Regions from separate parts of the Homo sapiens genome. Here region 2 is linked to region 1. The links come from fine-mapping of genetic effects on gene expression. A gene starts in region 1. The other region holds a variant in brackets. All regions are shown on one strand. Distances are between the middles of the regions. Region 1 holds the start of CLUH (CLUH binding protein of NUMT mRNA). Region 2 holds the start of MIR6776 (microRNA 6776).

Region 1 (16,101 bases):
AGGGCGGACTCCACCCATGTGGCCCAGGCGTGGCAGGTCACAGTGATCGGGCGGAAGAAGACATGCAACTCCATCTGAGCCAACAAGAGTCAATCTTGGGCCTTTTGCTGGAGACATTCATTCAGCACCTCATGTTAGGTGCCGTTTGGTTCAGCAGTGAACAAAGCATGACTATGGAGAAGGACAAACTCTTGGGTGGCTAAAATGGCACCCAAGAAATCTGGCAGGTCATTTGCCACTACAAGGGGTAAAGCTGCCTGAGTATAAAGCTACCACAAGAGAAACAGAATGGCTGGGCGCGGTGGCTCACGTCTGTAATCCCAGCACTTTGGGAGGCCGAGGCGGGCGGATCACGAAGTCCGGAGTTCGAGACCAGCCTACCCAACGTGGTAAAACCCCATCTTTACAAAAAGCACACAAAAAAAAGCCGGGCATTGTGGTGGGCACCTGTAATCCCAGCTACTCGGGAGGCTGAGGCAGGAGAATCCTTTGAACCTGGGAGGCAGAGGTTGCAGTGAGCCGAGATCATGCCATTGCACTCCAGCCTGGGCGACAGGGCGAGACTCCGTTCCAAAAAAAAAAAAAAAAGAGAGAGAAACAGAACAAAGAGATATGGAGACAATTCCAGATAATCAAGTCACTTGGATCCAGCCATGCCCGAAGCTCACAGACTCCTACCCTTTTCTGTTACATGGATCAATAAATCCCCTCCCCCTCCCAAACTTAGGTGTGGAATTTTTTTTTGTTTCTGTTGGTTTTGTTTTTGAAATGGAGTTTCACTCTTGTTGCCCAGGCTAGAGTGCAATGGCACGATCTCAACTCACTGCAACCTCTGCCTGCCGGGTTCAAGGGATTCTCCTGCCTCAGCCTCCTGAGTAGCTGGGATTACAGGCATGCACCACCACGCCCGGCTAATTTTGTATTTTTAGTAGAGATGGGGTTTCACTATGTTGATCAGACTGGTCTTGAACTCCCGACTTCAGGTGACCCGCCCCCTTGGTTTCCAAAAGTGCTGGGACATGAGTCACCACTCCCGGCTGTTTGTTTTTTTTAGAGACAAGGTCTCACTGTGTTGCTCAGGCTGGACTTGAACTCTGGTGCTCAAGGGGATCCTTCCACCTCAGCCTTCTGAGCAGCTGAAGAGTACAGGCCTAGCTAACAACACACACACACATGTATATGTATACTCAAAATATATATATATTGACACAGTCTTGTTCTATTGCCCAGGCTGAAATGCAGTGGCCACGTGGAAAATAACACACCTGGCCAGTTTTTTCCTACTTTTTATTTTGAACTCAGTTTCTTGCTTAAGCCTCTAGACTCAGGTTTGGGCCCAGGATGGGCTGGGACCAGGACCTGCAGCAAGCCCAGGCAGCCTGGCCCAGGCCTCTTCTTGTTCTTAGCCTTTTATCTCCTGGGGCAATTAGGGAACCGAAGGCCCAGCCTTGGATAAACATCTGCCCAAGACTCTTGAGTCTCATGTACAATTTCAGAAAACGAGAAAAGAAAGGGAGCGGGGCGCAGTGGCTCATGCCTGTAATCCCAGCACTCTGGGGGGCCAAGGCAGGCGGATCACTTGAGGCCAGGAGTTTGAGACTAGCCTGGCCAACATGGTAAAACCCCATCTCTACTAAAACTACAAAAATTAGCTCGGCATGGTGGCACAACCCTGTAATTCCAGCTACTCTGGAGGCTGAGGCAGGACAATCGCTTGAATCTGGGAGGCAGAGGCTGCAGTGAGCCGGGGTCATGCCACTGCACTCCAGCCTGGGCAAGAGAGTGAGACTCTGTCCCAAAAAAGAAAAGAAAAAGAAAGAGAAGTGTGGGGAGGGCAGGGCACAGGCATTAGAGTTCCCCAGACAGACAGACCCCTGGGGATGCTTGACTAAGCCCATCCCAGAGTCACAGTTCAGGGTGGAGATATGGAATGTCAAAACCAGATAACTGTTTTGTTTGTTTGTTTGAGATGGAGTCTCGCTCTGTCACCCAAGCTGGAGTGCAGTGGCACCATCTCGGCTCACTGCAAGCTCTGCCTCCTGGGTTCACGCCATTCTTCTGCCTCAGCCTCCCAAGTAGCTGGGACTACAGGCACCTGCCACCACACCCGGCTAATTTTTTGTATTTTTAGTAGAGAAGGGGTTTCACCGTGTTAGCCAGGATAGTCTCGATCTCCTGACTTCATGATCCGCCCGCCTCAGCCTCCCACAGTGCTGGGATTACAGGCGTGAGCCACCGCCCGGCTGTTTTTTTTTGAGAGGGAGTCTCACTGTCACCCAGGCTGGAGTGCAGCAGCGCAATCTCGGCTCACTGCAACCTCCTCCTTCCGGGCTCCAGTGATCCTCCCACCTCAGCCTCCCGAGTAGCTGGGATTGTAGGTGTACACCACCCATGCCCAGCAGATTTTTTTTTTTTTTTTTTTTTTGTATTTTAGTAGAGCCAGGATTTCACCATGTTGGCCAGGCTGGTCTCGAACCTCTGACCTCAAGTGATCTGCCCACCTGGGTCTCCCCAAGTGCTGGGATTACAGGCGAGAGCCACTGCGCCCAGCCTCAGATAACTCTTAAAGATCATCTGTGCAACCCCTTCATTTTACACATGGGGAAACTGAAGCTCAGGGCATCTTGCTGGCGGTTACCCCTTCCTTCCTGGCAGTTCTGCCCATGCAGTTTTGGGGTTGAGGGAGGTGGAGAACTTCCTTTCTAGGGGTTCCCAGAGATTGGCCAGGGAAGTAGGGGACTCTGTGCCGCAGTCGAAGGGATTTGGGTTCCCACATCACCTCTCCAGCCCCCTAGGGAACTGTGCAAAGGAGGGGGAAATAGGAATGTAGGAATGGCCTGCTGAGTGGGTGTATCCATGATAACAGTAATTAGGGAGGTGGGAGGCTTTGAGCGGGCTAATTATGCAGGCTGGGTCTCAGACTAGATAACCCTCCTCCTTATCTTTATGCAGGGACCCAAAAGATAGGAAAACTGCAGTGCTCAGGAGTGCCATGAGGTAGCCCTAAGGACGCCTGCTGTGCAACAGGACCCTGCGAGGGAAAGGGGAAGGGATCCACCAAAGATAAACTGCAGATTATTTTATTTGTTTGTTTTTGTTTTTTGAGGCGGAGTCTTGCTCTGTCACCTAGGCTAGAGTGCAGTGGCATGATCTTGGCTCACTGCAACCTCCGCCTCCTGGGTTCAAGTGATTCTCCTCCCTCAGCTCCCAAGTAGCTGGGATTACAGGCACCCGCCACCTCACCAGGTTAATTTTTGTAGTTTTAGTAGAGACAGGGTTTTGCCATGTTGTCCAGGCTGGTCTTGAACTCCTGACCTCAGGTGATCCACCTGCCTTGGCCCCCAAAGTGCTGGTATTACAGGCGTGAGCCACTGCGCCCGGCCTTAAACTGCAGATTCTAAAGCTGCTGGGACTGGTTCGTCACTAGGCCCATGGACAAACTGGTCACCGATCCCCATGCTGACCGGTAGGCACTTACGGACGCTCACTGACCCTGAGGAGGATAGGGAGAGGTGCCTCCGCTTGGCATCCTCCGTGGGCTCAGGCTGGTGGGTCTCAGTCAGGCATTATGGAAATGATCTGAAGTTCTAGACACAAAGGTCAAAGCATACAGTACACAAAAGGAGTGTCTGAAAGGAAAGCCAACTGTTATAAATAATGGGGGACTCAGCCAGGCACAGTGGCTCACGCCTGTAATCCCAGCACTTTGGGAGGCCAAGGCGGCAGACCACCTGAGGTCGGGTGTTCGAGACCAGCCTGACCGACATAGAGAAACCACCTCTACTAAACCCATCTCTACTAAAACCCTACTAAACTCTACTAAAACCCTACTAAAACCCATCTCTACTAAAAATACAAAATTTGCCAGGCCTGGTGGCGCATGCCTGTAATCCCAGCTACTGGGGAGGCTGAGGCAGGAGAATTGCTTGAACCTGGGAGGCAGAGGTTGTGGTCAGCCAAGATTGAGCCATTGCACTCCAACCTGGGCAACAAGAGCAAAACTCCGTCTCAAAAAATAAATAAATAAATAAATAATGGGGGGCTCAAAGGTGAAACCCCAGGCTGCCAGCAATGCTGCCCCCCCACATCCTGTGGAGCCCTCAGGGCCTGGCACCTTCTACACTGAAATCATTCACTCAGTCAACAAATGTGCATTAAGTGGGGTATGGTCGTGTGCACCTGTAATCCCAGCTACTCAGGGAACTGAGACGGGAGGGTCACTTGAGCCCATAAGTTGGAGGCTTCCGTGAGCCGTGATCATGCCACTGCACTCCAGCCTGGGCAACAGAATGAGACCCTGTCTCTAAAAATAAAATTAAAAATAAATAAATGTGCATTAAACACCTACCATGCATTGGGCTCTGGAAAGATGCTGGGAACACCCAGATAAATAAGTTATGGTTCTTGCCTTCAAGAAGTCCCCAGGTCGGCCAGGCGCGGTGGCTCATGCCTGTAATCCCAGCACTTTGGGAGGCCAAGGCGGGCGGATCACGAGGTCAGAAGTTCGAGGCCAGCCTGACCAACATGGTGAAACCCCATCTCTACTAAAAATACAAAAATGAGCCGGGCATGGTGACGCATGCCTGTAATCCCAACTACTTGGGAGGCTGAGGCAGGGAATCACTTGAATCCGGGAGGTAGAGGTTGCAATGAGCTGAGATCACGTCACTGCACTCCAGCCTGGGCGACAGAGCAAGACTCCATATCAAAAAAAAATAAAAAATAACAAAGTCCCCGGGTCTAGCAGCTGGACTCCTCACCCAAGACCCAGACATCCCAGTATGGCCAAGAGGGTCTCAATTTATGCCTATTGCCCCTGTGTCATTATTAATAGGTTCCACTTGCACTCTCAAAAGTGTTCTGGTTTTAATGATAAACTATGCGATCACCTTAACCATAGCACATTGTTATAGGCAATGGTGGAAATAGCTGGGGAAAATGGGAGTATGTGCTGTTAAGACTATGATGGAGGCCGGGTGCGGTGGCTCACGCCTGTAATCCCAGCACTATGGGAGGCCAAGGTGGGCAGGTCACCTGAGGTCAGGAGTTCAAGACCAGCCTGGCCAACATGGTGAAACCCCCTCTCTACTAAAAATACAAAAATTAGTCGGGCATGGTGGCGGGCGCCTGTAGTCCCAGCTACAAGGGAGGCTGAGGCAGGAGAATCGCTTGAACCCGGGAGGCGGGGTTGCAATGAGCTGAGATCTTGCCACTGTTCTCCAACGTGAGCTACACAGCGAGATGCTGTCCCAAAAAAAGACTATGATGAAAAGACTTTGGTGGAAGCTGTGTGAAAGCAAGAATCAGTCTGCTTAATGTGTGGTCAGAGGTCAGACCACCAGACTATGGAGAATGTGATCAGAGGATGATTTTTTTTTCTTTTCTTTTCTTTCTTTGCTTTCTTTTTTTTTTTGAGACAGGGTCTTGCTCTGTCGCCCAGGCTGGAGTGCAGTGGCGAGATCCTGCAGCCTCAACCTCTTGGGCTCAAGTGATCCTCCTACCTCAGCCTCCTGAGTAGCAGGGACTATAGGCGCACACCACCACACCCAGCTAATTTTTGTATTTTTTGTAGAGATGAGGTTTTGCCATATTGCCCAGGCTGGTGTCCAACTCCTGAGCTCATACAATCTGCTCTCCTCGGCCTCTCAAAGTGTTGGCATTACAGGCGTGAGCCGCCGCACTCGGCTGGATGATGCTTTTTATACGTGTCTGTTTCTCTAACCCCAGGCTTGCTGCTCTTCCCCAACCCCCAGGGTTAAAACTGAGCTTCCTATTATGAGTAGCATTAGCAACATGCACGGGCTTCCAACTTCAGCTGCACTGGGCCACTAGGCACAATTCTCAAAAACCCTGGAGTTTCATGAATACAAACTAAGTACCCATCAGTCAGGTGACCGGCTAAAAGAATTATGGTACAACCAAACAATACAACATTATCCAGCGTAAATGGAATGAGAACACCTACTGAAAGCGTGTAAAAAAAAAATCAGAGTGAAGAATAGCAGGTACAATTTTCTGCACATTTGTGTAACAAAAGAGGAACGAGTGTGTGTATACACATACGTATATACACACGCACACATAAGTATGTATGTGTATATATACACACATATATACACACTTTTATATATATTGATTATAAATATATATATTTTATATATACACTTATATATATACACACTATATATATACACACACTATATATATACACACTATATATACACACTATATATATATACACACACTATATATATATATGCACACTTTTTTTTTCTTTTTTTGAGACGGAGTTTCTCTCTTGTTGCCCAAGCTGGAGTGCAATGGCGCGATCTCGGCTCACCGCAACCTCCACCTCCTGGGTTCAAGCGATTCTTCTGCCTCAGCCACCCGAGTAGCTGGGACTACAGGCGCACACCACCATGCGCAGCTAATTTTTGTATTTTTAGTAGAGACGGGGTTTCACCATCTTGGCCAGGCTGGTCTCTAATTCCTGACCTCGTGATCCGCCCGCCTCTGCCTCCCAAAGTGCTGGAATTACAGGCGTGAGCCACCGCGCCCGGCTTTTTTTTTTTTTTTTTTTTTGAGACGGTGTCTGTGTCACCCAGGCAGGAGTGCAGTGGTGCGATCATAGCTCACTGCAGCTTGGAACTCCTGGGCTCAATCTGAGCCGTCCTGAGTGATACTCCCAGCTCAGCTCCCAAGTAGCTGGGACTACAGGCGCGTGCCACTACACCTGGCTTTTTTTAAACAATATTTTTTGTAGAGACGGGGGTTTTGAAATGTTGCCCAGGTTGGTCTCAAACTTCCGAATCCTGAACTCAAGTCATCCGCCTGGCTTCGGCCTCCCAAAGTGCTAGGATTACAGGCGTGAGCCGCTGCACCGCCCGGCCGAGAAGAATCTTACCAGTTCTCATCTTCCTTCCTCCCGTTTAAATGCTCACATCAAGTCGCTGGCTTTCCTCACCACGTGCTCTCCAGAACAAGGTCGGCTTTCCTTCGCAATTTGTGCGAGGCCCTACCTAAGGCCCTCCCAGCCCACCTCGGGAAGCTGAAGCTTTCCAGTTCTCATTAGAGCTTGACAAACGCTCCGAAGGTTATAGGCCTCGGGTGCTTCCCAAAGGCCCCCTGCGGCCTGGCCAGGAAAGACCCACCGGCGCTCTCTGCCTGGAGCACTTCAACTCACTGCAAGACCTGGTCCCAATGTCCCCTCTGCAGCATTCTCTGACCTCACCGTTCCGTCCCCGCCAAGCCCCTGCCAAGTGAAAAATACGAGTTAAAGCGTCCTGGCTGTGGATGGAGTCAGACCCGGCTCTACCCCTTGCTCTCTGTGTGACCTTGGTCTCGGCCTCCTCCACTGTAAAATGAGGACACCAGCCTGGAGGTGAGGACCCATGGGTCGAGGACGCGGGTAGGGAGCCCGTTCTGGCTCGGGGCAAAGTTTGGCGGGTCCATTCTGACTCTTGATCCCCATTAGCCACGTCTCGCCCTCGCCTCTCGTGCCCGTGCCCTAAGCGACCCTCCACTCCCTCAATAATCCAGCCGCACCCATTCGGCGGGAAAGGGCCTGCCGGGTGGGGAGGGCGCTGAGGGTCACGCGAACACCGCAGATGACAGACTGCGCGGTCATTTAGCAAATCTGCAAGAGAAAACAGGGGATCCTTGGAGAGGGGAGGATTAGCCATGGCAGAACCAGACCAGTCTCCACCCAAGGTCACAGTGCCCGCCCGACGGGCAGCGAGCAGCAGGGAGTCTCCCCGAGGCCCCGCCCCGCGAGGGCGCCCAGCCTCCCTGGGCCTTGAGTCAGAGTGCGTTGCCTTTAAGACGTTCTGGAAAGTCACCGCGTCCGTGGGCGGGGAACCAGGCGCGGCGCGTTTTGTCCCTCGCGGGCCGCCGTGGGCTGGGCCGGGCGCGAGGGTGGGGCAGGGAAACGGCGGCGGGGTCAAAGGCCACGGCGCGCACCACGTGGGCCGGTGACTCCGTCCTTCCCTCAGCAGCCGCGGCGCGCAGGGCACTTGGGTTAGTGGCGCGGCGGGCGGCGCGGACAGCCGAGGCGGACGCCCGCTCCCGCCACCATGGTTATCAAGACGGACGAGTTGCCGGCGGCCGCCCCGGCCGACAGCGCCCGGGAACACGGCTCGCAGGCCGGGGGCAAGGGGCGGCCGGGCGCGGCCGGTGAGCGGGGCCAGGGCCAGCGGGCCGCTGGGCGGGGGGCGCCGGACCAGGGCGGGCGGGTTCGGGACTCCGCGGGGATCGCCGCCTTCCCTCCGCGTCGGGCCCGGTTGTATCTCGCTGGGGCCTTCACCGGGTCGCCCCCGCGCTGAAGGTCACCTTCACAGTCGCCCCCGGCTGCGGCCCGGGTTTCGCACGTGCGGTCCCGTGGAGGGCAGCCTCGGCTGGCACCCTCGGCGGGCACACGCGCGCCTCATCGCGGGGACACGTGCGCGCACACGCGGTTTCGGGGTGCGCCGCCGCCGCAGACCGAAAGAATCGGCGGCCCCACCCCCTCTGCGCCCGAGCATGGGAGCTCTCTGAGCTGGGGTCGCTCCGACGTTTGCGGGACAGCCCCCTTCGGCACCTGCTCCGCGGCGGCCTCCCAGGCATCCCCTGTGCGCAGGGCTGCAGCCCTGGGAGTGAAGCTCCGCTCGAGGCTTCCCAGGCTTGGTTTGTGGGAAGAGCACGAGGTGCGGGGTGTGCGTTGTGAGGGGCGTCCCTGGTTCATGCCCTGAGGCCAGGCTATAACCGCAGGTCTTCAGGCTGTGGCGGAGACTCTCAGGTGTGTTGGCCTGCTCGGCCGACCTGGTGTAGGGGGCGTCTGCCTTTGCATGGGGCAGAGCCAAACTCCTTGGCAGGGGGAAGTGTTTGTGCCAGAACTTGATCATTAACCTGCCTTATTGCGAAAAGTGGGTCAGACCAGAGTTGCTGTTTTTAAGGCAAAGGTCGTTAGTGTGGAGTCAAGCTCCCAGCGATCCCCCATGGGGGCTGTATGGTGGTGACTGTGGCAGTGGCTGCAGCTTGTCTCGGGTGGGGCCTGCTTTCCCTTTCTCCTGAGCCCCTTCTCTTCCTTCTGTTCCCTCCACCGTGTCTCAGACTCCAGCCTTGGGGCTGGAATCCCCTTCCCAGGCCCTCAGTCGTCATCTTCCTCAGGCCCTCTTTGCTCTGGGTGGCAGTGGAGGTGCAGAGCTACTCCTGTCCCCCAGTCCCTCCCTCCTCCGTCGACTGTCCTCAGTTGGGACTTGTGGTCTTAACGCCTCATCATCTCCCTTCCTAGCTTCAGTGAGTGCGCCAGGGCTGACTTGGGAATCAGGATGGGGACAGCGTTCAGCCCTCTGACCCTGTTCCCATCATAGCGGAGTTGCCTTGGGGTGAGGGACAGGTGCTGGGGCAGTACTGCTGATTGTCTAGACAAGGCCAAGGTTTGGGCAGAAGAGCAGATGCTCATCGCCCCAACCTACCAGGCTTTGTGCTGATGTGGCTCTGAATCAGTGGGGGCAGGCTGGATGAGAGGAGGTTGGCTGATTTCCCCTCTAGCAGAGACCCGAAGAGTCGAAGTGACTTGCCCAAGGTCACACAGCGATTTAGCTGTTAAGGGAAGTGTTTGGATTCCAGCTCATGGCCAGCAAGCCAAGGCTGCCGTGGCCTGGCCCAGAGGAAGCTGGGACAGGCGTGTTGGTTTGGATCCCGTGCTGAGAACTAGGGGGCTGACGAGCGTCTGTTGGAGGATTTCTGTGAGGGAGTCAGTGAAGCCCCTTCCTAACTCTGCTGGGGGTGGGGGGGCTCTGTCGGGGGTAAACTGAGTCAGGGAAGGGCACAGCTATTTGTTTTGGGGAAACTGGGAGCATACTCGTGGGCAGGACATGGGCTCCTACGTCCCTGGGAAGGTAGTACAGCTAGCTAGGACTTACGTTACAGCCAGCCCGGATCTATTGAAAGAAGGAAGGAGCCTTAATGAAGACCCCCCAGCTGGGGCCCACCTGAGCATCAGAACCAAGGCTTCTGACCTCTGAGATCCAGCTCTGGAAGGCTCTTCAGCCCCCTTAGGAAGGAGCTGATCTAGGCCATTGAGGGTCGGGGGCAAGGGTTGGTTACCTTCCTGGGAATACAGCGGCTTTTAGGGGTTAAGAGAACAGGCAGGTTTTTCAGGTCCACAGTGGTGCGTCAGGTTCCTTCTGCCCAGGGGAGGGCTCCCTGGAGTTGAGGCCCAGAGGGGGAGGAGGAGGAGGCTGGCAGCTGGGGAAGGAGTCTAGGGGCTTATGGGAGCTCCGCAACAGGATCTTGGATGGGATGTGGGGAGAGCAGCCTGAGGAACTCTGAACTGTCCTCAGGCCCTGAACGCCTGCCTCTGGCCTGGGTGGGACAGGAAGGAGGCAAACAGGTGCCTGGTCTGTAGGTTCTTCCATAGGCCGCCTGCCCGCCCCATTGCCTTTCCCTGAAGCCCTGGGCTCCCGGGACGGGTGATGCACCTTTTCGGACCCTACTTCCTGCTGGAGCCTCACTTGCTGAGGCCTTGGCTGGGGCGTGGCCTGGCCCTGGCACAGTCTTCTGAGTGAGATTGTGCCTGGCTTGGGCAGCACACAGGTCCTCTGGGAGGCCTAAGTTTCTTTTCTAGTTCCTCCTCTCTGCCGCCTTTGAGCTCCCGGCGCCTCCAGGCCGGGGCAAGGGTGTGCTTTGTCTCTTCACTAGCATCTGAGTTTGCGTGTATGCAGAGTGCTGTTGGGGCACGGCTCTCCCGCTCTGCAGAAGACCTCCTTTTCCCCTCCCCTAAAGCTCACATCCTCAGAGGTGCTCCTGGACTATGAGAGGAGGGAGTATTGGCCCAAGGGTGTAGAGGCCTTGGGGAGTGCTGTGACTGGGATAGTTCTGCTCCCCCCCCCCCGAGTAGAGGCTGAGGCCTGGACGAGGAGGCAGGTGCAGCCTACCTGTGGGTGCTGCCGGGCCCCTCGGGAGGGGGTGGGTGGGCTGCGCTGAGTGGGAGTGGGTCAGTGGGAGCGGGTCCATGGGAGCGGGTCGGCGGGAGCAGGTCGGTGGGAGCGGGTGGGTAGCCCGCGCTCAGTGGGAGTGACTCAAAAGCCATGGGCTTGGGCGTCTGACACTCCTGTTTTTTCTTTCCTTTTTTTTTTAAACTTAATCCCAAATGTGATAGTAACACCTGGTTTTTTCTTGCTCTGGGTTGGCTCCTCTTGCCTCTGTGACCTTGGGCAGCTGCTTCCTAGCCTTCTGGAGCCTCAGTTTCCTCAGGTGAGATGGGCTGGCACGGCGGTTTAGGGAGCTGCCGTGGGCTGGGCCTAGCGTGAGTCCTGGCTCTGTGGTAATCAGAGTGCAGGTGGTTGTCAACACTTCTCTGGGGTCACTGCCAGGCTGCCCTGCCCCACCCCTCTCTCCGGAGGGTTAGGGTGTATTTCAGGAGAGGGTAGGAGCAGAGGGGCTCTGTCTAGGCCTGGTCCTTCTCCTCTGGTCATTGTGTGAGACCCAGAACCTTCCATGGGGGCTGTGAAGCAGCCCAGGGTCTGCCTGATCCCTGGTCCTGGAGGGGAGGGGATGGAGTGAGAGCCTGGCTCCCGCCCACCCTGGGTAGGGTGGATGCTGGGGCAGCCCTTACTGGGCACTGGCAGCATGTCAGAGGCCCTGGGAAGGCGCCCTGGCCAGCTGGGCACCTCCTCCCCCGCCGTGCGGCCACTGGCCTCTTGCTGCCAGCTCTGTTCTCCCCTGGGAGAGACTTGGTTCCCTCCTGGCAGAGCCGGGGCTGCTGGGAAGGGAAGATGGAGCCTGCCAGCTTCTTGATGGAGCCTGGAGGCCAGGGGCACGGGTGCAGTTGTCCTCTGGGAAGCTGGGGGCCCATCCCCCTCCCTTCCACCAGAACCAGTGACTCCCAGGAAGGGGCTGGCAGCCAGGTCACCTGCAGGGGGCAGCAGGAGCCAGAGGTCCCAGCCAGGCCCTTGGCCCAGGGACAGTGGGGTGCTCAGTGTCTGGGACTGGTGGGCAGAGGCAGCCACCTTATGGCCTGGACCCGGGTCTGTGCCAGCTGTTGGCGGCAGCTGGCAGAAGCGGTCCTGTTCACCCCCACTGGGATGGGAGCGGAGGAGAGGACCCCCTTGCTGGGCCCTGCCCCTGCCAGCCAGTCTCCTAGGCCCTCAATCTTGAGGGGTCCAGGTACCCCAAATTCTGGGTTCTCCGATCCCCCTAGCGGCTTTGCCGGCAGTGACCCCCTCTCTAGGGGGCATAGGGAGGTGGGCCTGAGTGCTGATAGCAGCTCCCCCTGGGGTCCTGGGGCCACCGGGTTCTCCTGGCCCACAGCCGTCCTTCTGGCCGACCTTGAGCGGGATGCCAGGCAGGGGGAGTGTGCCCTTCCTGGGGCTGCCATGGCAGGCCTGGCCCCACTGAAACCCGAAGCCAGCCGGAGCTCCAGCCCCGGGCCGACTGGCTGCATTAGGGCAAGGGTAGCGGCAGAGGCTGGAACAAGGAACCCGGGCAATGCTGGGGCTGAGCTGGAGAGCTGGCTGCCTTGCTGCCACGGCCATCCTGAGACTCCAGAGCCGAGGGGAGGGCAGCTGCCAACTGCACCAGGTGAGCACCGGGACCTGGTGAGCCAGCCAGCTGCCTGCGGGGGAGATCGCTCAGCCTTCATCCAGGGGTGGGGAGACCTTCGGGGTTCCTAGGAGGAAGGATTAGGGTAAAACATGCTGTCCTGGGGAGAGGAGGCCCCTTGGGAGCCAGCTGCATTCCTTTGAAACGGGATAGGGAATAGGTACCCCCTGAGGGTCGTCTCCCTGGGCTGGGGAAGGAGAGTGGGAGCCGCGGCCACCTTGCCTTGTCGTCCCTCCTTTCTGTCCTCCCATTCCAGACATGCGAAAGAACACAGGCTGTCTCTGTCTAGGTATTTGACTCCCCACTTTTGGGATCTCATAGCTCAAAACTGCTGTTCTATATTGGGTGGGGGCCCTTCCTGCTTCTCCCCTTATTCCAGGGGCTTGGCAGCCAGCACAGCCTTTCTCAGGGACCCTGTGGGGGCAGTTCCTCCACCTGGCTGCCCTGCCTCTTGCTGTTTGCAAGCTGACCGACCACCGCCCCGGCTGTCTTTCTGCTCTGTCACTAGAGTCAGGCAGGTGTGTGGGGCTGCTCACGTGCGAGGGGATTGGGGGTGCCCTTCCTGGGGCGGTTGGATCCTGGAAGGGAGGTCTTTGTACATCCTCGTGGTTCCTGGGAGTCCACTGCAGGCTTGGAGAGGGTGGGGTGGAGAGCCATGACATGCACAGTTACTGAAGGTCCTCAGTGGCCAGAGTTGAGGGAGTGCCGCGGCGTAGGGTGCGGGCTGCAGGAGGGAGTCTGGGGCCCATTCTGACTTGGTTGACCTTAGGCCAGGCTCCGAGCCTTTCTGGGCTTCAAATACCCCTCTTTGGGGTAAGGGGGAAGAGACTCTGAGCTCTTAGAGGTCCTGTTTCTCGTTTGCTCGTGGGGATCCAGGGAAAGGGAGCGACTCTCTCCAGGCCCCCCGGTCTCTGCCTTTCCGTACTGGCCTCATCCCTTCCCTGAGGCTCCTGCTCCGTGTTTCTGGTGGGTCCGGATTGGGACCACACAGTTCTGGGAAAGGCACCTGTCCCCGCTCCTGAGAGCCGGGTGGGGAAGGGGAGGTGGGGTCTAGATGGGATGGGCAGAGCTGGGCGAGCTCTTCTTTCTGGAAGGGAACCCAGGCACTCCTCAGAGTTGGGACCGTTGAACTTCAAGCCAAGCCAGGCAGGTGAGCCTGGCCCATGGACAGATCCTGGGGGCCAAGGTCCTCATCTCCTAGATGGGTGCCCAGGCAGGCCCGTGTCTGCTGGAGGGTTACTGAGAGGCGATCCTTGGCTCCTCAGCGGAACAGGGGGTTCTCCTTTGTTCCACTGGTGCCTGGGTAGGAATGCAAGGTTTTGTCACCTGCTCCCCACCCTGGAGCATGTGGATTGGGTGCTGTCTTCAAATATTGGATGTAGCTAGAGGTTTGCAGTAAGTACTTTATTTGTTGCCTTTTTTGTTGAGCCTGGGCAAGATAGAAGGTGGTGGGTAGAGCTGCTGGTGAGGACGCCACCCTGGGTGCAGCCGAATGTCTCTGGGAATGAAAGGGGGAGGGAGTGTGATTCTGCCATTAAGGGTCATTTGGGCAGGCTGTGGAAAAGGTTTATTTCTCCTAGGCCTTGAAGGGTGAGTCAGTGTTTGCTGTACAGAATGGGATGTCAGGGGCAGCACAGACACAGAAGCACAGCGGTGGGAGGGCGGTGGGAGGGCTGTGGGCGGTACCAGGCTTGCATGGTGTGGTGTCCTTAGACCTCAGCAGGGAGCAGGCAGGAGCTGAGGCTGACTTCAGGTGGGTGCCTGAGAGCGCTGGCCTGAGAAGCTTGGTCTTGTAAGCAGTGGGCTTCCTAGGAGGGTTGCAGGTGGCACTGCTGAAATAGAGGAAATGCCTGCCCTAGGGCAGTGGCTGCAGAGGCCGGGTCCCGTGGGTGGGTTGGGAGATTTAGGGTGGGTGACTAGATAGAGCAGGTGCCAGTTTGAGGAGGAAGATGAGTTCTGTCCCTGCAAGACGAGGCTTCAGTGATGCCTCAGGGACAGCCACATGTTGATGCCTGGGAGGCAGCGGTCTCCTTGGTCCAAAAGGCTGGAGAGAGGACAGGATTGGCCGTGTGAGCCACGGGGCAGGAGTGTATGGGAGGGGGTGGGGTCAGAAACAGGAGAGGCTGGGCCTAGGCACTCCCCTGCAGCCCCCCTGCAGCCCAGGACCACAGCTCAGGAGGGATGGAAGAGGATGGAGCTGGAGAGGGAGGGGCAAGGGCACTGTGTGGGGTCAGAGAAGAGGAGAGGAAGAGGGGAACTGCTGCTGGGAAGCTAGGTGTGTTAGGGCCGGAGGAGACCCTCGGGCTTGGCTTGAAGGGTGGCTTTGGTGACCCTGGGGAGAGTGGTTTGGGACATGGGTTCAGGTGCAAGCCATACCACAGTGGGCCAGGGAACAGTGGCTGGGAGGGGCGGCTGGGTGTGGAAGTGGCCTGCAGGTGCACGGAGGGCGAGGCGCGACCGTGAGGCTGGGACTCTCGAGGGCATGCAGATGCCTTTCCAGAAGGCACGTGTCCCCGTGTGGGGTCAGGCGGACAGCCCCGCCGACCAGCGAGGCTGCCTGATTCTGACCCGTTCTTGTCACCCGCAGAGCTGCCATCAGTCATGCTCTTAAACGGGGACTGCCCAGAGAGCCTGAAGAAGGAGGCGGCGGCGGCCGAGCCACCCAGGGAAAATGGGCTTGACGAGGCCGGCCCGGGAGATGAGACCACCGGCCAGGAAGTCATTGTCATTCAGGACACGGGCTTTTCTGTGAAGATCCTCGCCCCTGGGATCGAGCCCTTCTCCCTGCAGGTAAGATGGAGGAACGGGTGCTGGGGGCCAGGCCTGAGCCTGCTGGGGAGGGTGAGCTGGAAAGCTCAGCCTTGCTCGTGCTCCTACCGGCCCCATTTTGTGGCAGGAAACTGAGGATCCCGTGCCCTCCCTAGAGTCACTCAGCTAGCGTGGTGGACGTGGGAATCGAGCCCAGGGTCAGGTCGTTGCCCCATTGCTAGAGGACAGCAACCAGCTGGGCCTGCCAGCCCTATGTGGGGAGGGGAGTGATAGTGGCTGGGAAGTGTTGGCATCCCAGGACTCCCCAGCCTCTTGCTCTGTGCCCTCAGGCAAGTCACCTCTCTCTGGGCCGTGATTTTACCATCTGCCAGAGGGGAGGGTAGTATTGGGTTATCTCCAAGGGCAGAGCCAGCGTGGAGGTCTTGCAAGCCGGTGACTCAGTGGGGAACGAGACAGGGTCGTCGTATGTCTCGGCACCCGCAGGCTTGGGCCCCAGAGCACCCCTTCTGGAAGGGGAAAGCCATTTGCCCCAGGCACCTTAGCACTGGGCAAGGCCGGGGGCGAGCCTGCCGTCTTCTGTCCCGCTGTTCTTCATCTCCCTTCTCTGCTCGGGCATTGCTCTGGGTCTGCAGGCCGAGTCGGTGGGCCAGGCTCCAGGCTGCACACACAGGGCATGGCATGTGTGGACATGGCCTGGATTTAAAAGCCAGAAAGTGGGATAGCCGATATTCGAGTATTTGGGGCATTTAT
Region 2 (12,460 bases), 23 kb after region 1:
GGATGGAGGCCGGGGGCCTGACCAAGACCTCCCTTCTGAATCCTTCCAGAAAATCGGCATTGGAGAACTCATCACCCGCTCGGCCAAGCACATCTTCAAGACGTACTTACAGGTGCCACCCGTCCGCTCTGCGGCTGGCCATGGCCTCCCAGGGTGGTGTGGGGCGTCGGGAAAGAGCCTGAGGTGGGGCTGAGGGCCCTCATGACTCGGATCCAACCTGCCTCGCAGGGAGTCGAGCTCTCCGGCCTCTCAGCCGCCATCAGCCACTTCCTGAACTGCTTCCTGAGCTCCTACCCAAACCCCGTGGCCCACCTGCCCGCCGACGAGCTGGTCTCCAAGAAGCGGAATAAGAGGAGGAAAAACCGGCCCCCGGGGGCTGCAGATAACACAGCCTGGGCTGTCATGACCCCCCAGGAGCTCTGGAAGAACATCTGCCAGGAGGCCAAGAACTACTTTGACTTCGACCTCGAGTGGTGCGTGCGGGGCAGGGGCGGTGGGGTGGGTGGGATTGGGCAGATGAGGCGGCCACCACCTGCTCCCAGATGGCGTCTAAGGCCTGTGGTCATAGGCCAGGGAGTCAGAGAGAAGAGGGAGCAGCTGTGGAGATCACTGGGTGCTGGAGGGTGAGGGCAGCCGGGAGGCTCCCGGGGGCCGGGTGGGGCAGTGTTGGGGGCCCGGGCTGGACAGCGTTGGGGAGCTGGGTGGGGCGGTGTTGGGGGGGCCCGGCGGTGCTTGGGCTGCTCAGGCCCCCTGCTCCCTCCTCAGTGAGACCGTGGACCAGGCTGTGGAGACCTACGGCCTGCAGAAGATAACGCTCCTGCGGGAGATCTCGCTGAAAACAGGGATCCAGGTGGGCATGGCTCACAGCATCCCCGCTGTGTCCCCGCTGTGTCCCCGCTGCGTCCCTGCTGCAGGCTCCCACTCCTGGCCAGGGCCACAGGGGAAGTGGCTTTTTCACGGTAGCCGTCTGTGCGCAAGCGTTGGTGGGTTGGGAGGTGCCAACCCGCTGAACCTGGGCCTGAGGCTTCCTGTGGTGGGGGGGCTGCCCCCCAGGTCCTGCTGAAGGAGTACAGCTTCGACAGTCGCCACAAGCCCGCGTTCACCGAGGAGGACGTGCTCAACATCTTCCCCGTGGTCAAGCACGTCAACCCCAAGGCCTCGGATGCCTTCCATTTCTTCCAGAGCGGGCAGGCCAAAGTGCAGCAGGGTGTGTGGCCAGGTGGGGCTGGGTGGAGGTGGGGGTTCCCCATGGCCCGTCCTGACCTTGCCACCCCTGGGGGTGCCCTGCAGGCTTCCTGAAGGAGGGCTGTGAGCTCATCAATGAGGCCCTGAACCTGTTTAACAACGTCTACGGAGCCATGCACGTGGAGACCTGCGCCTGCCTGCGCCTCCTCGCCCGCCTCCACTACATCATGGGCGACTACGCAGAGGTACCCTCTGGGCTGTGGCAGCAAAGGCCTGGCCTCGTGTTGGGGGATGGGGAGTGAGGGGGCCCCTGACGGAGGAGTGGGTGGAGTCCAGGGAGACCCCAGGAAGTCGCTGGTTCTGCCCAGGCCACCCCTGGCTCCACCCCTCTGTAACTGTGTCCCGAGCGGGAGAGCTCAGGAGCACCCTGTGCTGCGGTGAGGTCAGTTCTGGGAGGCGATGGCAGGGGACCCCCCCACAGGGCGTCAGCAAGGACGCCTCCTGAGACTCCGTGAGTGGGCAGGAAGCATGCCACCGAGCTCCCACGTCCTCTGTGCCCAGTGCAGGCTGTGGGGTTCTGGGTGCCCTGCCTGGCCGGGGCTGGTGGAGGCTGTGGTGGGGTTCTGGGTGCCCTGCCTGGCCAGGGCTGTTTCAGGGTTAGCATGTCTTAGGATCCCTACTCCCTGCAAAGGGACTGTTTTTTCTTCTGTTTATAAATGGGTGGGTTGTTTGTTTGTTTGTTTGTTTCTGAGACAGGGTCTTGCTTTGTCACCCAGGCTGGAGTGTAGTGGCGTGATATCGACTCCCTGCAGCCTCAACCTCCTGGGCTCAAGCGATTCTCCCACCTCAGCCTCCCGAGTAGCTGGGATTACAGGCGTGAGCCAGCACACCCAGCTAATTTTTGTATTTTTAGTAGAGATGGGGTTTCATCATGTTGGCCAGGATGGTCTCAAACTCCTGACCTCAAGGGACCCACCCCTGCTCAGGCTTTTTTTTTTTTTTTGTAACATTTTTAGTAGTTTTAGGTTTGTATTTGGGTGTTTGTGGAGATTTTGTTGGGTGTAAGACATGGGTGTGTGGAGCTCTCTGTGGAGCGTGACCTGCCCTTCAAGGTGTGGCAGCAGCTGCTGCTGATCCCCCTCCCCCCTGCTGCACTGTGCTGGGCGCAGCCGGAGGGGACAGGAGCCTGCAGAGCGGCACCGTGGGCTGCTGGGCCGGGGCCAGGCGGGCTCTGGGTGCAGTGGGGGTTCCCACGCCGCGGCAACCACCACTGTCTCTCCCCAGGCCCTGAGTAACCAGCAGAAGGCGGTGCTGATGAGCGAGCGGGTGATGGGCACCGAGCACCCCAACACCATCCAGGAATACGTGAGTCGCGAGTGCCGCCCGCGCCGGGGGATGCGAGGGGCTGGGTCCGCGGCCACCCTGACCTGTCTCCGCCCCGCCCGCAGATGCACCTGGCCCTGTACTGCTTCGCCAGCAGCCAGCTGTCCACCGCCCTGAGCCTGCTGTACCGCGCCCGCTACCTCATGCTGCTGGTGTTCGGGGAAGACCACCCCGAGATGGCGCTGCTGGACGTGAGTGCTGGGGCGGGGGGGCGGCAGGGACCCAGCTCCATCCCAGGGGACCGGGAGCTGACCAGGGCCCCCCACCGCCTGCCCCCAGAACAACATCGGGCTGGTGCTGCACGGGGTGATGGAGTACGACCTGTCGCTGCGCTTCCTGGAGAACGCGCTGGCCGTCAGCACCAAGTACCACGGGCCCAAGGCCCTCAAGGTGGCCCTCAGGTGAGGGGCCGCCCGTCCAAACGCCAAGGCCGGCGGAGGCCTGCGGGGCAGCCGGCGGGGGCGGGGAAGAGACCCAGTGCTCCTGTCTTCCTCCACCCGAGAAAATTTCTCTCGACCTCCCCCTCTTCCCTGAGCCCTGGACTTGCTGTTCCCCTCGGTGGCTTCCAGGGAGGGATCTACGGGAGACCCCGGGCCCCCGAGTCAGGCCCCCACACCCAGCCCACTTATGCCCTTCCCTCGCCCCGCGCCGCGCCTCCCGGCAGCCACCACCTTGTCGCCCGAGTCTACGAGAGCAAAGCTGAGTTCCGGTCGGCCCTGCAGCACGAGAAGGAGGGTTACACCATCTACAAGACGCAGGTGCGCGGCGGGGGCGTGGCGGGGGCGGGGGCGGGGCGGGGGCGTGGCGGGGCGGGGGCGGGGCCGCGGGGGCACGGGGGGGCCTGATCCCTTCCCGCCTCCCCGCAGCTGGGCGAGGACCATGAGAAGACCAAGGAAAGCTCCGAGTACCTCAAGTGCCTGACCCAGCAGGCCGTGGCCCTGCAGCGCACCATGAACGAGATCTACCGCAACGGCTCCAGCGCCAACATCCCGCCCCTCAAGGTGAGTCCGGGGCGGAGCGGCCCCTCCGGCCCGGCGAGCGCGGGAGCCCCGCTCACCGCTGGTTTCCCCGCCCCGCAGTTCACGGCCCCCAGCATGGCCAGCGTCTTGGAGCAGCTGAACGTCATTAACGGCATCCTCTTCATTCCTCTCAGGTGAGGCCTCCGCCCCACTCGAGTGTCTCCCGGTTGGGGGTTTTTTGTGAGTCGGAGTCTCGCCCTGTCACCCGGGCTGGAGTGCGGCGGCGCCATCCCGGCTCACTGCAGCCTCCGCCTCCCGGGTTCAGCGATTCTCCTGCCTCAGCCTCCCCAGTAGCTGGGATTACAGGTGTCCGCCACCTCGCCCGGCTCATTTTTGTGTTTGTAGTAGAGATGGGGTTTCACCACGTTGACCAGGCTGGTCTCGAACTCTTAACCTTGCGATCCGCCCGCCTCGGCCTCTCAGAGTGCTGGGATTCCAGGCGTGAGCCATCGCGCCCGGCCCGCCCCGCTTATCTTCCCCAGCATCCTCGCATTCCGCGAGTGAAGACCTTGGTGTTTCTGCTTCACACAAAGTATCTTGGCGTTTTCCCACCAGTCCCTAAGAAGCGGCTTCATTCCCTCCCCACGCTTCCCATCCTGCGGCGGGGGGGGGCTGAGGAGCAGGCCCCGGGCTCCCCGGGGTGGCCACAAGCAGTGTGGCCTCCTGTGGGGAGTGGATTTGGTCAGCAAGGCGTGGCAGCAGCCCCCCAACTCCGCTTTCCTCCCCCTGCGCTGGAGGGAGGCCACCGAGGGCAGCGAGGGGAGCCCCGAGGCCGGGTCAGGTGCGGGGTCCTTACCTTCTCCGTGTTCAGGGACCTTCCGCCTTCAGGAGGGAAGCGCTTGTTCACACACATTCCCCACTGAATAGAGCGCAGAGCCTGAGCTTATCCCACAGGAAAGCCGGGAGGCGGGTGGAGCCCCCAGGACTCCTCTGAGAGCCACCTCCATCCCCACCCTTATCCTCAGCCAAAAAGACCTGGAGAATCTGAAAGCCGAGGTGGCGCGGCGGCACCAGCTCCAGGAGGCCAGCAGAAACAGGGATAGAGCCGAGGAGCCCATGGCTACCGAGCCCGCGCCAGCGGGGGCCCCAGGAGACCTGGGCTCCCAGCCCCCGGCTGCCAAGGACCCTTCTCCGAGCGTGCAGGGATAGAGAGGGAGCCAGACGGACAGCCAGCCAGCGGCCCCGTCACCAGGGAGCCCGACTGCGGGAGAAGGGGGCGAGCCTGCGGGCGGAAGAGGAAGCAAGGCCCTCTTCCTCCACGTCTCACCCCACCCCACCCCCGTGTCCTCCTGGGAGCCTGGCCTGCCTGCCCCGCAGAAGGTGTTTTTGCGCTGGTTCAATGAATAGATGATGCAGAGGCCCCATTGGAGACACGTGAATGGCGTGTGCGGCCATCAGTTCCCGGCTGGGGGGCAGGTGTTGCTTCGGCCCCCGCCGTCCGGCCGGCGTGTGCGAGTGCGCCCCTGGCTGTGAGTGTTGACCGTTCCTCTCCCCTGTACATAGCCCGAGCCAGTCCTGAGTGGGTGACTCCTGAGTGGGTGACGCGCAGACGGGATTTCTCAGGTCATTTGTATGGTCGACATGATGGCTGCTGCTTTGGCTGCCACCACCCCCGGGCCCAGCCTGTCTGAAAGTTCAGGGTTTAGGCCGAAAAACCCGGTGGGGAGGGGTGGGGAGCCGGAGCTCTGTGGCGGGGCTGGAGGGCTGGGGTGCACTTTAGTTTGGGGCGGGACGGGAGCCGCCGTTGTGACTGGCGTGGTCTGGCTGCTGCTCCCGAACGGAGGGGTCGGGGTTGGCTTGCTGGGCCCTCAGAGCCCAGTGGGTGGCTCTGACTCGGCTCCCTACTCCCTGCACCCAGCTGGGCGCAGCCTTGGGGCCTGCGGTCTGAATGTATCCCTCCCCTCAGTTTTAACCTGAGCTGCCGAACGCACAGTGGGCCGGGGGCG[A/G]GGCTGGGGGAAGCGGGGCCCAATTACGGATCCCGGGAGTTACAGGTGCCGACGTGATGTCGCTTCTCTGGTGCCCAGCTCCCTTCCTGGTCTGAGACTAGCTCTGGGGGTGGCGGGGGCCCCCACACGCTGCTCCCGCTCCACCCTGCCCGTGCTGCTGCTCTGTGCCTGCTGTCAGAGCCCTGGTGGGGGAGGATGTGGCCACCCTGAGACCCGGAGGAGACGGGCGTCTGCCTGGGTTTGCGGAGAGCCGCTTATGGGTGTGGTCCGTCCAGACACCTTGTTTCAAGGGGGATGGGCGTGAGCGGGCAAGCAGAGCATCCCCACCGCTGAGCAAGAACTTTTTCTTGTTTTTAAACCATCACGTCCTCATTTCACATTGGAATAAAGTGAGTTTTTGAAACCTGCGGCCCCAGGCTCACCTGTGTGTTCTGTAACCCGGTCTGGGTGGATGGTGAGGGCTGACAGGAATGTGACTGGGAGAGGAATAGATACAAACGAGGTCAAGTTCGAGGTCACGCTTACATTGTCACTTGAGTGGGAGGTAAGGGGGTGGAATCACAGGCACTCAGCTGGAATTCACCGAGCTGCCAGTCCGTCACCAGGTTCGCGGGAGTGTCGTGCAGGTGAATGTCACCTGTCACCAGGTGCAGAAGAAACTGTGAAGGCCAGGTGGGGAGGGGTGCTGGGCTGTGGGGCCAGGCCCTGTGCATGCTGGACCCGTGAGGTCACTGAACACCCCCCTGGCTGGCCACCTGCCCCTGTCTCTTCACTCGAGGTAGGAAGGAGGGTGGGCAGCACTGCCCAGAGGTGAGACACTGGGGGCAGGGAGGAGGGCCTCAAGTTCGCCACCCTCGGACAGGATTCAGAGAGCCAAGACCCAGGTGGACTTGAGCGGCAGAGCCTGTCTCTAGAGGGGAAGTTGAGCTCTCAGTAGCTGCTGACCGCTGCTCGCCATCTGTCTCCAAGAGCAGGCCCTCGGCCCCACCAGGAACATACGCCTTTTGGGATGCTTGGAGAGATCTGTACGTCTTGGAAATTCTGAAAAGAAAAAAATTCCATCCCTGAGTCTGTCAGTTTTCCTGAGCCAACCGGAGAAAAGGTGCTTCTGACCTGGCGGTTTTAGGTGACACCCGGGGACAGCCACCAGCGAGTGAGTGTCCTGCTACAGAACCTCTCAGACTTCCCAGCAGCCCCAGCCCAGCAGCAGCTTCCTTTGCTCTCACCGGTGTGTCCTGAACATTCTGTCCCCTCTCCTGAGTGTTTGTTGTTGAACGTGAGCCACATGTTCATGCACCTCTCAAAACAGGGCCTCCTGTGAAGCTGAGAACAGATCGGGGTTGGTTAGGGTTGTGCCTCCTTGTCACCTGAGAGGCCCCTATTTCCTGGCTGATCCTTTAAGCGTATTAGTGCCCTCAGACATCTTTTGACGACCCAAATGACAAGGGGCTGTTTTCATAAAGCAAATGGAGGCCCTAGGTGTGAAATCCACTCTTTCTCCTTCCCTTCTTTTAGGTGACAGGTTTCAACTTTTTAAAAAGTGGGCCAGGCGTGGTGGCTCACGCCTGTATTCCCAGCACTTTGGGAAGCCAAGGCTGGTGGATCATTTGAGGCCAGGAGTTCAAAACCAGCCTGGCCAACATGCTGAAACCCCATCTCTACTAAAATTACAAAAATTAGCCAGGTATGTGATGGCGGACACCTGTAATCCCAGCTACTCGGGAGGCTGAGGCAGGAGAATCACTTGAAGCCCAGGAGGCTGAGGTTGCAGTGAGCCGAAATCACGCCACTGCACTCCAGTCTGGGCAGCAAGAGTGAGACTGTCACACACACACACCCACATACACAAATTGGGGAAATTCCTATATATCCTGCAGCTGGAGAGTAAGGCATCCTGATGTGGCCCAAATTTTCCTCTCCCCTACCTCTAAGGTCTAAACTACCAAATCAATCAGGACCCCCCCCTCCCCACAGAGTGCAGGCCCAGCCATCCTCGAATGGCAGGTGAAATGCCCTCATTTGTGGGAGTAAGCCATTATTTTATTTTTGAGACAGAGTCAGTCAAGGTCAGGTGACCAAGTGGGAATGAAGATCATAGGACATCGTCACAAAGGGACAAACTCCACATGTTCAAAGTGAGGATAGGCCGGGCGCGGTGGCTCACACATGTAATCCCAGCACTTTGGGAGGCCGAGGCGGGCAGATCACAAGGTCAGGAGTTCAAGACCAGCCTGGCCAACATAGTGAAACCCTGTCTCTACTAAAAATACAAAAATTAGCCGGGCACGGTGGCACGCGCCTGTAATCCCAGCCACTTGGGAGGCTGAGGCAGAAGAATTGCTTGAACCTGGGAGGAAGAGATTGCAGTGAGCTGAGATCATCCCACTGCACTCAAGCCTGGATGACAGAGTGACACTCTGTCTCAAAAAATAAAAATAAATAAAAGGATGAAAGAGGAAAGATCGGGATCCAGACCTGAGCTGCGGGGCCAAGAGACCAGTGATGTGCCCAAGTTTCTTTGGTGAGAAGTTGAATCATTTAGCTCGGTGGTTCTCGAACCTGAGCCTGCCTCAGTCATTGGAAGGGCTTGTTATAATAGATTGTGAATCAAGCAAGCAAGCAGGCTGCACCGCTTCCACTCAGGGGTTCTGAGGCGTGAGCTCCCAGGTGCTGCTGCTCTGCTGAACCAGGGAACACACTTTGAGGATGCCTGTCCTAGAGCTTCTGGTGTATCAGCAGTTAAGAACCGTCTGCACACAAGTCAGGTTTCACCAGGCTAGGCAGGGACAGAGCTGCCACAGCCAGCTACCCTCCCCCTGCATCAAAGGCCATACACAGTCATGACTCCTGGAAGGAGGTTTGAGGCAGTTACAAGCCAGCGAGTTACTTGCCAGGTTTTGAACAGCTAACAGCATTTCTGGATAGTGATACTAACGCTAGAACTCTGCCCCTGGGGCCCTATCATCTGGATCTCAGCCTGGAAGAGTCTTGCAAGGAAATGGAAAAGCTGCAAAAGTGCAGGGAACTAACTTCAGGCCAATTTCTTTGTTTTTTCTTGCTTTTTTGAGCCAGGGTCTTGCTTCATTGCCCAGGCTGGAGTGCAGTGGTGCAATCCTGGCCCAGTGCAACCTCCGCCTCCCAGGTTCAAGTGTTTCTCCTGCCTCAGCCTCCCAAGTAGCTGGGACTACAGGCACCTGCTACCACGCCTGGCTAATTTTTTTTGTATTTTTAGTAGAGACGGGGTTTCACTGTATTGTCCAGGCTGGTGTCAAACTCCTGAGCTCAGGCAATCTGCCCGTCTCGGCCTCCCAAATTGCTGGGATTGCAGGCGTACCACTGCGCATGGCCCATTCCTTTTTTGCTCTGGGCCAAGCTCCTATTTTGGGGCAGGCTACTACTCCCAATAGGAGGCAGGAAAACAGCTGGGCTGTAAGAAAGGAACCAGCACATCACCAAACTGTCCTTTGTAGGGCACCTTGAATACACCACAGATACAGCCATGTGTAAAGTGCAGAGCTGGGGTTTCTGGGACAAAGATGAACACTCTTATTTTGTATGTTTCAACCAAAATCGAAAACAGTATTAAGGATTTACTTTTATGATTCCAAGACCACTGAGCAAGATTAGAGGCTAACAGAACAAAGGGGGTAGGGCCCCATCTTTTTTTTTTCCTTTTTGTGGAGAACGGGGTCTCGCTATATTGCCCAGGGAGGTCCCGAACTCCTGGGCTCAAGCTATCCTCCCGTCTCTGCCTCCCCAAGAGCTGGGATTACAGGCGTGAGCCACCGCGCCCGGCAGGGCCCCTTATCTCTAGACTCTGTCCCCAAGAGTCTAGTCTTGGGCCTGTAACCAGCCATCCTGGCTTTGGCTCTCTGGCCACAGCGATAGCCACAGTCAGAACGGGCTGCTGGGAGGGTTGGGGAGAGCGGGCCTGTGCCGCAGACGCATGCCATGGCAAGGCTCAGGCTGAGGCACTCCCTCCTCCACCCGGGGGAAGGGGGACAGCAAAGCCAGTTCGGGTGCTGCCCTGAAGGAAAGCAGCTCATGAGGCCTTACTGCCCTGACACCGATTCGTGTCACTCTTTGTGACTGGAGCTACACACAGCCCCACTTTCTATCAGCATTTCCCCTGTGCAAAGGAAGACAAAAAAAAAAAAAAAAAAAAAAAAAAAAATCACATCTAGTTTTATAGGCATTTAATAGTTTACCAGTTGGTACAATAAGATTTTTTAATATGCAGAAAACATGAATAAATTTTGTTTTACACAGTCTGAGAGCAACAAATCTTACTGTAAAACACGAGAGCAATATTATATACATTCCTTTACTGATTTTTTAAAATTGTGTCAATATCTTCAGTGAACTCTTAACAATCTGGGGAACTGTTTTCCTCAATTACCACTTCAGCAACGTTCATACGAAATCAAGGCTTGCCTTCATGTCAGTGTCAGGATCAACTTTAACTCGAAGAGTTTGTGTTTGTCTCTAACATCTTCAGAGTGAGCTTTAGGGATGCCTGAAGGATGGACAGTACAAGCAAGCAGCTACTTCCATGATACAGTGGGAAGATAAAAAGGCCCATTCAGTCCAGCCGTGACCTGTAAATCCAGCTTGCCCTCCCCCCACCCCACTGGAAAAAAAATCCAAAACCTTTTTCCACCAGTTTTTTACATGTCGCTTCTCTACCAGGAGATTCTTTGCGTCATCTAGATGAACACACTGGACTTATATACAGCTGGACATGAAAGTAACCAATTTAAGTGCCTTTTCCTTCAACAATTTTAACTTCAGTTGCTTAAGGATGATCGAGCCACCGATGTCAACAAAATATCCTTTACCTTTAAATAGTTTTTCTTTAATTAAGTTTAAAGAAAACCTATTTAACGAGTGATATTACCGGGAAAGTTCACACAGAAACAGAAAGAGGCGAACGGGAGAGCAGGGCACTGGCAGCGGGGAGGCGGGGCTTGGTAAATCTAAAGCCAAAGCTTCCAAAGACTACGGCGAACGCTCCCCAGCCCGGGACGACTTGCTAACACTAGTGATTTTGAGAGTAGTGCTCTGGGCACACCATTGGTCACACCACACACAGACGAACCAGGACGGTCTTAGTCTCCTAAAGTGCAAGATGCCGTGACAACAGGCAACTAGGCTCCACGCGGTGTCTAAACCAGTCTCCATGGCATGCACTCTCAAGAGCGCAGCTAGGATTTCTTGGGCACGTTACAGATATATATTTGGGTGGCACTGGAATGTCTGTTTTCACACACACACACAGTCAATAATCATCTGAGGATGCAATTCTACCAGCTCTTTATTTCTTAAGTGGCCAATTTGATTGAGAAAGTGACAAAGCAGCAGTGAACCTCTAAACCAATTAATAAAAGTCCTCTACTTACAATCCAAACCAGTAACCTCATCATTGTCCTTATCCCAGGCAAGGCACAGGGTTAGACAGCAGACAGAGAAAACAGAGAACACAGTCAGAAAGGGCATCAACAGGACAGTGTCAGACAGCAGTGCAGGAAATTTTGCAAATCTGATTCCAGGTTGTAGACGGACTGCTCTCCCCCACCCCTTCGTTATTAAACAGGGCTCATTACATGTGGACCCAGTTGTGGGCCATCCCTGAGATTCAATGTTCGCTGCTTCTCACATGGAGGATGTCTGGTAACTCAACTCAGCAGCAGGCTGTGGCAATCTCCCAAGTAAGGATAACTTTGTTTACAGAGTAATCGTTTCCTCCTCCTTTGTCAACGCAAGTCGCTGTGTGCTGCAGGGGAAGACACGCTTGCTTCCTCCTGCATCGGTACCATTCTCCTTTATTGTTCAATATCTATGAGTGATTTCTAGATGTTGTGGCTTACCCTTAAACAATTCATGCTAAAAATGAATTAAAATACAAGACATTTATACATGTACAAACAAATGTTAAGATGCACCATTTCTATGTATTTATATTTCTCAAAATAGGACAGAAAATAGCAGCAAACAAGAACAAAGATATTTTCCATAGTTTTTGTAGAAAAATCCAGTCAGAAGAGCTAAGGGAAAAAGACTTTTCAATGTAAGCAGGGTTGTGAGGCAATATTGTCCTGAAAATTCACCTACTGTATGTATTTAAGGAATTAGCTTAAGATGTAATTTTTGTCCTCAAAAATAGCCATTAGTTCTCAAAACTTTCCCTTCCAGAGACATCTCTCAGGAATCTAAAAACAAACAAGCAAACAAACAAAAAGACACAAGCTAGACATAAAGCTGCTTCTAGTTAATATACGGCCTAGTCTCTGTGTGTATCTACAGGACGCTAACTCTCACCCTTTGTCTTTTGCAGGAACCAATTTTCCATTAAATACTAAAGGGGACATTTAAAAAATCACATAGTACACAAATGAATAAAACGCAGTTCAGAATTTTATCTTTGTTAAACTGTCACTGTTATCTCATTGTTCTGTTAACTTTTCAAATAACTCTCTTGGAAACAAAAAAAACCTGTTGGTTAGCTAAGCAATGGAATTCTTTATTAATAACTGACAATGGAATAGTGCTCCAAAAGTCATGGCTAAAAATTCTCTTAAACCTACCTGTAACTTTGGGTCAAAATATACAACATATCCGGGTTGTGTAAAATGTCGAGCGGCTAAATTAGAGGGGGACATAACGGAAGTGATTTTCCTTCGGCTGGAAAAAAATCCCCAGAGTCAGACCTAGTTTTCAGAAGCATTAAGATCAAAAAGGGTTTGTTCTAAAGCATGGCATTCCACAGCAACATTTATTCTACTTGTCCGTTTTAGCACTTTTTCAAAAACCCAGGACTAAGGACATGGAGGTTGATGTGTATGATACACACATACAGACTTATCCACTTACAGATAGGCCCATATACTTACAAACATTTACATATAAACAAAAGGTGAAAACAGTACA

The links.
Region 2: its variant is fine-mapped to the expression of CLUH in whole blood (TOPMed, PIP above 0.99). The same link has a PIP of 0.9 or more in blood mononuclear cells.

The regions. Positions count from the first base shown.
Region 1 is chr17:2,703,633-2,719,733 of GRCh38, reverse strand. It overlaps CLUH (CLUH binding protein of NUMT mRNA), which reads left to right and starts at 7,970. Exons shown (of 26, transcript NM_001366661.1): 1 at 7,970-8,172; 2 at 15,170-15,372. The coding sequence starts at 8,073. LOC105371592 (a long non-coding RNA gene) reads right to left here and starts at 7,425. Exons shown (of 2, transcript NR_136412.1): 1 at 7,335-7,425; 2 at 6,901-7,252. RefSeq lists enhancers at 6,705-7,600, 7,601-8,497, 9,332-9,411, 10,669-10,868, 12,085-12,981 and silencers at 7,662-7,841, 7,972-8,091.
Region 2 is chr17:2,682,870-2,695,329 of GRCh38, reverse strand. It overlaps PAFAH1B1 (platelet activating factor acetylhydrolase 1b regulatory subunit 1), which reads right to left. Exons shown (of 11, transcript NM_000430.4): 11 at 9,715-12,460. CLUH (CLUH binding protein of NUMT mRNA) reads left to right here. Exons shown (of 26, transcript NM_001366661.1): 15 at 50-112; 16 at 229-473; 17 at 766-850; 18 at 1,054-1,207; 19 at 1,291-1,430; 20 at 2,470-2,550; 21 at 2,634-2,759; 22 at 2,848-2,969; 23 at 3,233-3,326; 24 at 3,435-3,569; 25 at 3,648-3,721; 26 at 4,553-5,943. The coding sequence ends at 4,736. MIR6776 (microRNA 6776) reads left to right here and starts at 2,411; the gene lies at 2,411-2,469. It overlaps LOC105371490 (a long non-coding RNA gene), which reads right to left and starts at 7,105. Exons shown (of 2, transcript NR_188262.1): 1 at 6,760-7,105; 2 at 6,043-6,574. RefSeq lists enhancers at 3,104-3,611, 3,612-4,120. The variant A/G (reference allele first, on the strand shown) is at 5,534.